Homo sapiens: one gene and its partner. The protein of the gene in region 2 purifies or fractionates together with the protein of the main gene of each other region. This does not show direct contact. Each region holds a gene or a part of one and is shown on either strand. Other genes may lie near its edges. The genes, in order: NBEA and RGS12.

Region 1 (3,809 bases), on a different chromosome or scaffold from region 2:
AGGTATTCCTTATGAGCTTCATAAGTGACCTTAGGAATAAGTAAAGAAAACATTAAGGCATTTTGTACATATCAAAAAGAAAAAACTAAATAATACAAATTAAATTGTGGAAATAGAAAAAATAATGCCAGAAAGTTTAAGACTTCAAAGCTGGCATTTGTTAGTCCTAAAGCAAGTGCTTAGTTTCATTAAGTAACTGGAAATAATCAACAAATACAGCTATATATGATTTATTATAAGGATTGCCAAAATCACACAGATAACTCAGCAATATTAAAAGCTATTTTCTTTTAGGCTAAGTATTTCAATGTTACCCAAACCAAATATGCCAGTTAACTTCCACACATTTATGTAAGCTTAAACAGAGAATAAGCAGCTAATAATATACAATAACCAAAGTACTATTACTATGTTGGTTTTCACCATCTATTGCTCATATGTGCACCCTTCCCAACAACTGATGTTAAAAAATTCACACATATCATTAAATATATAAATTTACAAGCTATTAAAATATCACAGTTTTATCCTTATATAAGCTGTTTTGGCTTTGTTACTTTACTTAGGCTTCTTTATTAATAATCAGAATACTTTTTTTTTGCACAAAGACCTGCAATGTCTTTTTCTTTGCTATTTTCAAATTTGTTAAAGCAATGATAAATCTGAGGTGTCAATACTTCACAAAATGTAAATTTATAATTGAAACAAAAGCTTTTCTAATATTTTTTAAAGTTCACAGACTTTCTCTTACAGACATGGGTTCTATTAATGTATATTTAAATAAGTTAACAGAATTTTAGATTGGGGGGACCATCCTTTAAAGAATATCTCATAATACAAAAATCCCCTTAATTTTACAGAAGAAGAAAGCAAGTCCCAAAAGTGGGGGTTGGTAACATAAGGCCCATGGGACAAAACTGCTTATCACCTCTTTGGGTGAATAAAGGTTTATTCAAACAAAGCCATGATCATTCATTTACATTATGTATTGTCTTTCACACTGAACGGCAGAGTTGAGTAGCTGCATCAGAGGCTATAGAGCCCACACAGCCTATAATATTTACTATCTATCCTTTTAAACATTTTTTTCTAACTCGTGTTCAAGAAGACTTAATGAGTCTCCTAAAATCACAAAACTCAATTATGGCACAGACTAAATTAAAAGCCATACTTCTGACACCCATGCTTCTTCTATAACACTTCATGATGAGAAACCCATAACTCTGAATTTCCAGAATCTAATGTGTATATACTTGTACAGTTTAATTCACTATTTCATTTTACCAAAGATCAAATAATACTTAAAATAGACATACAGATTTTTAAGATTAAAAATAAAGAAAAGATAAAGCAATTAAAATACCACTAAACTTAAACACTGTATTTATGATTCACTTGGAAATAAAAAAATCTGACTTCTTAAAAAAAAGTCTTAAAAAGTATATTTCAGAGACTATTTCATAAAATATTCTTCCAAGAACCAGTTGAAAGAGCAAGTGGCTCAGATTAAAGTTCCCAGATTTGCTATAAAACAGATGTATGTCAGCTTTGGGTATAAAACTCCTGATTTATAAATTTGGGGTTTGAATTAATTCATCTATAAGCCACTTTCAAGTTCTAACAGTCTATGAACAATGAGGGAAAAATACAAAACTGAGATACAGGAATCTGTCAAAATCTAAGATGCCCACAAGATGGCACCAGATGCATGTTTGTAGCCATTTAATCCACTGCAATAACTCTGATGATGTTAAAATGTTAAATCCCGTGTTACCTTGGAATGGGCTATTGAGAGGGTATCCACCCAGACTCTCCAGCCTCCCCATTCATATTTTATTGCATGATACAAAAGAATCCGGAAGATATTGTAGACCATTTCGGTAATCTTCTGTTCCTCAGAATTTTTAGGATTGATATAGCCAAGAGAAAACATCCAATCCTGCCACACTGAACACTGCAATAAGCATCTAGGGAGAAAAAAATTTGATCTCATTAAAAATATCCAAATTAAGTTAGAATTTACTATTTTGAAACTTTGATAAATAAAATAGTGAAAATATGATCTGACCTCAGTAAAGCAAGGTGTACAGTCATGCTGCACGTTATATATTCTATACTTGGAATGACTTTCTCTTATTTCTCTACCAGGAAAAATCCTAATTATCATTCAAAATCATTTTCCTAACTTTCACAGTCAGATTTACTTATTGCTTCTCTACTTTCTCACCACCTTTAGCACTCACAATGTACTTAACACATTATACATTAATCATTGCTTTATGGTTTCCCACTGGAATGTACTGAGACTGTGTACTAAGACTATCTTGTGTAGCACAAAGTCTTACACTGAACACAGTAGGCACTCAATCAATATTTGTTAAATTATAGACTCAGGCAATGACTACCCCAGAGTTCATGGCCTCAGACTTTACCCCATGTTCAAGCTAACTAGCTTAAAAATGCACAACATTCGGCCATAAGAAATATGGGGTGGAAAGCATAGATGAAAATGGGGAAATCCAACACAATTACAACTGAAAGTTCCATTGGTGATAGATAGGTACCACTAAAAGGGATATTACATTCTAAATAAGAGTTTGTTTATATGTATATTCATATATACAATTAAAATATAATATCCACGTAACAAAATAAAAATAATATAAAAATAAATAGAAGAATACCGAATACAGATTATGTCAAAGAAACATAAAATGCCTTTTCTGATGATTAAAAGTATTTAGCAATATGGAAAAGATTTGAAATGAATTGAAAATCTAAAAGAGAGAAAATATTAATTATGGAATAAAGTGTTGTTACAGTATCCAAACTGCTTACCTTCTATTTTCACGGCTGTTACTGAAAAGTTTTATCATATCAGATAAAAATAAACGACGAACTTCCATCAGCTCTGCACTTGGTGTAGAGTTTTTTAACAAAGTTGCCACCACTTTAAGAATCACTGTAAACAAAGAAAAAAAACTTGTAGATTTGTAACCATATCCTATGTTCAACTCAAAAAGTATTACCAACTTTCAAATAAATACTTAACACTATAAAAGGTGAGTTAAAACTGTCATGAACTAGGTAAACACCATAATGATTTAAGGGGTTAGGAAAAGTTTTGATTTAGTCTCATATGTTGCCATGCGCCTACCACAATACAGTAAAGAACTGCCATTTGCTCACTTGGATTCTGAATTTTCACTGTAGAATCTGGCTCTGGATGTGGTTTGTGTACGACCTGAGTACATACTTGTTCTGTCAAGATCTGAAAAATGAAGAATTTGAACTTCATTTAGAAAACAATTTAAATAATAATTGCAAAATATAGATATACAATGAACCTGCAAAAGAAATGTCAATGCAGTCCAAACCAAAAGAAACATCTCTTCTAAAGGGACTTTTTTCTTTCTTTCTTTCAAGACGGAGTTTCACTCTTGTTGCCCAGGTTGGAGTGCAATGGTGCAATCTTGGCTTCAACCTCCACCTCATGGGTTCAAGTGACTCTCTTCCCTCAGTCTCCCAAATAGCTGGGATTACAGGCATGTGCCACCACGCCTGGCTAATTTTTTGTATTTTTAGTAGAGACAGGGTTTCACCATATTGATCAGGCTGGTCTCGAACTCCTGACCTCAGATGATCCACCCGCCTCAGCCTCCCAAAGTGCTGGGGTTACAGGTGTGAGCCACCATGCCCAGCCCTAAAGAGACTTTTTAATGAATTCCACATACTTCTAAACTCTTTAACTCTGTATTCACCAAATTTTATTTATTATTTATACATACAAAACCAGAACCAGTATCTAT
Region 2 (4,419 bases):
CTCCAGCCCCCAGAAGCTGACCAGGGGGGTGAACGGCTCTCCTCCAGCCTCCAGAAGCTGACTGGGGCGGGCCAACAGTTCTCCTCCAGTGCCTCGGGAGGGAGCTTGGCCAGCTGACGATGACACCAGTTTCAGCCCAACTAGGGCAAATAAACTTTTGCCATTTTCAGCCACTAAGTGAGTGGTGCTTTGTTACACAGCAATAGGAAACTCATACAACTGGGAAGGGAAATGTTTCTAGGAATTCCACCAAATTCAAATAAAATGTAAAATGGTCTGGGCTTTAGGATTTTGTGTGCTTGAAGCCCTGCATGTGTTAAGTCGTAACTAATGAGTTGTTTATTCCTTCAGCCTGCTTTTTGTTGTTGTTGTTGTTGGTTTGTCTTTGTTTTTGAGATGGAGCTTTTTTTTTTTTTTTTTTTTTGAGACAGAGTTTTGCTCTTGTCACCCAGGCTGGAGTGCAATGGCGCAATCTTGGCTCACCGCAACCTCCGCCTCCCAGGTTCAAGCGAATCTTGTGTCTCAGCCTCCCGAGTAGCTGGGATTACAGGCGTCTGCCACCACACCCGAATAATTTTGTATTTTTAGTAGAGACGGGGTTTCACCATGTTGGCCAGGCTGGTCTCGAACTCCTGACCTCAGGTGATCCACCTGCCTCAGCCTCCCAAAGTGCTGGTATTACAGGCGTTAAGTCACTGCACCCAGCCCAGCCTGATTATTTTGCTTGGTCAGTCTCAGACAAAAATAAAGGTCCAAAGTCAATGTGATCCACATACTGTCAACCAGGCCTGCAGAGCCCACTCAGCCCCCTTCTATCAGCCGGAAGCGCTGACTAGCGGCAGCCTCAGCCTGTCCTCCATCTCCTCTACCCCCGACCTTCCCACAGCAGCAGCCAGGCCGGCTGGGTCACCAGCTGTCACCTCTGGGCCCTCACCACCTCCAGGACCTCACTGAGTCCCAGCTCCCAGCGCCACAGGTCTCCTCGGCCTGGCCACCCCTTCTTCCCCGAGACCCTCATCCTAAACAGGGCAGAAAGGGAGCCAGCCCTTGACCCTGGATTCCCTCCTCTTTGCAGTGCCTGTCGAGTGCCTCCCTCCCACCTCCTGACCCTCCCCAGGACATGCCCTCAGGCCGCGCCACCCCTGCCCTCTCCTGAGCACTCCACAGGTCAGTACTGTACCTCCAGTCCACGTGAGGGGCCTTTCCTCCGCCCTTGTCTTTGTCAACCTCCCTGAGACCTCCGGTCACCACTGCCCTGTCGCTCCTCCCTCTGCTCTGCCAGTCACAGAGGCATCCGCATCATTGCAGTTACCAGGGCTAGAACTGTAAGCCTGTCTGATGGCAGGTTCCAGCCTCAGGAGGTCTCAGAGATAAGGCTGGACTTGCAGTTTTAAGAAAAAGACCCAGACAGGGGTGCACCAACTTGTGCAGGCTCAGCCACCCCACTGCCCTTGCCTGAGCCCCTGCCCTCAGCCAACATGGCCTCCCCCACCTGCAGAGCATCCAGCTGAGGCACCACGCAGGGCCCGGGCACCGGATACCCATCATCTCAAGTCCCCAAAAGCACTGGCCACGATGGACCTTTTTATATCGCTTTTTCAGGGGAAGAAACTTCGCACTGTGACAATTACTTTCTAAAGTGAAATATAAACTGGTTCTCCCTTACTCAGAATTGCTCTGCCCTCCCCACGTCGCCTTCTCTAGGGGAAGGCCAGCAGGACTCCACCCCAGCAGCCCTTGCTGCCCAAAGCCGCCTCTCTGCCCTCCTTGGTAGTCTCCTTGCTGTGAATGGTGGGGCTGCTGCCTTGCCTGGGAAGGCCCCCCAGCGCCCCTTCTGTGCAGGCCTTGCCGGCCATCCTGCACGTCCCTGTGGCCTCAGAAGGGCCCTGCACAGGACGGCATGGACCACGCTGAGGACTTCAGACAAAGACACTCTTAGCCCTTGCAGCAGCTCCAAAGACAGGTCCAATGAGGAAACTCAGGCACAGAGAAGGTGGTCACCTGCCCAGGGACACATTCCCAGCAAGTGACCAAGCAGGTGAGAGGCCAGGTGGTCCTCTCTGTCCACACTCCACGGCTCTGGGCCCCCTCTGTGTTCACCCTCCACTGTCTACACTCCATGGCTCTGGGCCCCTTCTCTGTCTGCACGGCTATGAGACTCTGTCTACACTCCACAGCTATGGGTCCCCTCTCTGTCTACACTAGATGGCTCTGGGCCCTCTCTCTGTCTACACTCCACGGCTCTGGGCCCCCTCTCGGTCTACACTCCACGGCTCTGGGCCCCCTCTCTGTCCACACTCCACAGCTCTGGGCCCCCTCTCTGTCTACACTCCACTGTTTATACTCCATGGCTCTGGGCGCCCTTTCTGTCTACACTCCACAGCTCTGGGTCCCCTCTCTGTCCCCATTCCACAGCTTTGGGCCCCTCTCTGTCTACACCGCACGGCTCTGGGACCCCTCTGTCTACACTGCACAATCGCGGCACCGCGGCTGAGGCGACCCCAGGTCGCTGCAGTGCGTCTGGAGTTCGGGTCTCGGAAGGCAGCTTCTGCCCTAACAAAGCGGCCGCTCGTGGAGTCCGACGAGGGAACCCTCCCAGCGCTCCCGGGCGCATCTCGCCCGCGGGACCCCCTGCCCGGCGCCGCCCCCGCGGGTCCCGCCAAGGGCCCGGGCGGGCCTCACAGCGCGGGGCCCCAGGAGGCCGCGCACCCGCCCGGCCGGAGGCCCCACAGGCCCGCGCCCCGCGCCGCCCGCCCCCGCCCCCGCCCCGCCCCGCCCCGCGCCGGGCCCGGGACCAGGAGCCTGAGTCAGGCCGGCGAACAAAAGGCAGGGCGGGCGGGCGGCGACCCCGAGGGGACGGGCGCCGCGCAGGGCTGGCCGGGATCGGCCGGGAGGCGGAGGGCGCGGGCGCGCGCCCCGGAGACGAAAGAAAGAGCGGAGGCGGCGCGCCCTGCCCCCGCCCCGGCCCCGGCCCCGCACACCTACCGGGCCGCGCCGCTCGCTCCCGCTCCGGGCGCTTCGGCCCGCGCCACCGCCCGCGCGCGCAACGGTCGCCTCGGCAGCCACCGCCCCCCGGGGTCGAGGCGAGGGCGGGGCCGAGGCCGGAGGAGGGGCGGGGACGGAGAGGGGCGGGGCGAACCTGGTGAGGCGGGGCCAAGGGGGTGGGGTTGGGGCGGGGCGATGCGGGGGCGGGGCACGGGGCGGGGCGAGGGCCTTCGCGTCGGGACAGCGTGGTAACGGGACTGCCAGGGAAGCAGGGATGAGAAGAAGCGAGGGACGGGGCCTCCACGGCCGGGGGCGGGACTTCCGTTGGGGGCGCGGCGGCGCTGGTGCGCACGGTGTGTACCCGCACTGGCCCGGCCCTGGTGCTGGGAGCGACTGCGTTCCCGCAAGCTGGTTTTCTCTGCCTCCGCTGGCCCGGGACACCCTGCGAAGGGCAGGTCGGTGTGGCCGGGAGGAGCCGCCCCTGCCTGGGCTGTCTCTGTCCTTCGCCGTCGGTGTCCGAGGAAGTCCCGCTCCCGTTGGGTCTCTGTGCCCGGGAAACCTGGCTGTGGGGAGTCAGGCCCCGGCGCCCTGGCTTTTCGGCTGGGCAGATGCCCGGAGCTGGCGGCAGCTTCGGGGGCGGCGTGAGTTCCCGCGGCGAAGCCACGGGGACAGCCAGGAAAGGCCGTTCCCTCCGGGCCCCGGGACGCCCGCGAAGGCGGCGCGGTGACTGCGGCGTCCAGCGGGTCTGCCCCTCCCGGAGCGCGGGCAGCAGCGAGGGCGGGACCGGAGGCACCGCTGGCACGAGAGGAGGAGCTGCCCGGCCCCGGCCTGCGCCTCTGGCCCTGTCCCAGCCGCCGCCTTCACCCTTTAGGCCGGAGTTCCTTCCTCGCCCTCTTCGTGTCTTCCTTCCCCGGCGCTGGGTCTCCCTGCCCCTTCCTTCCTGCCTTCCCCTCATTCTCTCCCGCCGCGTTTTTCCCTCGAGACGCATCCGTCGCTGCTGTTCACGCTCCAGCCCTGCCGCCCGCCCAGGGACTCGGCCCCTCTCGGGTTTGCTTCTTTCCTGTCACCTGCCTTGATGGGCTCAAAACGCTTCCCCTCCGTCCCCGCCACCGCCCCATGGTTTCTTGGCAGCTCTCCATCATCTAGTCTTGTGTGATTAGTTTGGATCCCAGGAGGAAACCAATGGCATTCTCAGTGGGACAATTAATTAAGAGTCCAGCAGGGTTCCCGCTGGCAGAGGCGCGGTCCGGGAGCCGGGAAGCCACAGGGCGGTGCTGAATTGGGACAGGTAACAGCAGGGAGGGAACTGTTTTCACCTGCAGGGCTGAAGGAGCGCGGCCAGAGCGGTTACAGGAAGCCAGACAAAGAGAGAGAGATACTTAACAGGAGCTGCGACCTATGGCCAAGGGACACAGCCAGCCCTTGATGACCCAG

What was found.
Region 1: the proteins of RGS12 (region 2) and NBEA purify together in Homo sapiens (affinity purification with mass spectrometry; one large-scale study listed by BioGRID and IntAct). This does not show direct contact.

The regions. Positions count from the first base shown.
Region 1 is NC_000013.11:35,155,236-35,159,044, reverse strand, and holds part of NBEA (neurobeachin), read right to left. Parts: intron 3,272-3,809; coding exon 3,190-3,271; intron 2,963-3,189; coding exon 2,839-2,962; intron 1,968-2,838; coding exon 1,775-1,967; intron 30-1,774; coding exon 1-29. UniProt on the Homo sapiens protein: Binds to type II regulatory subunits of protein kinase A and anchors/targets them to the membrane. May anchor the kinase to cytoskeletal and/or organelle-associated proteins.
Region 2 is NC_000004.12:3,291,666-3,296,084, reverse strand, and holds the start of RGS12 (regulator of G-protein signaling 12), read right to left. Parts: upstream 3,065-4,419; 5' UTR 2,986-3,064; intron 2,561-2,985; exon of another isoform or gene 1,181-2,560; intron 1-1,180. UniProt on the Homo sapiens protein: Regulates G protein-coupled receptor signaling cascades. Inhibits signal transduction by increasing the GTPase activity of G protein alpha subunits, thereby driving them into their inactive GDP-bound form.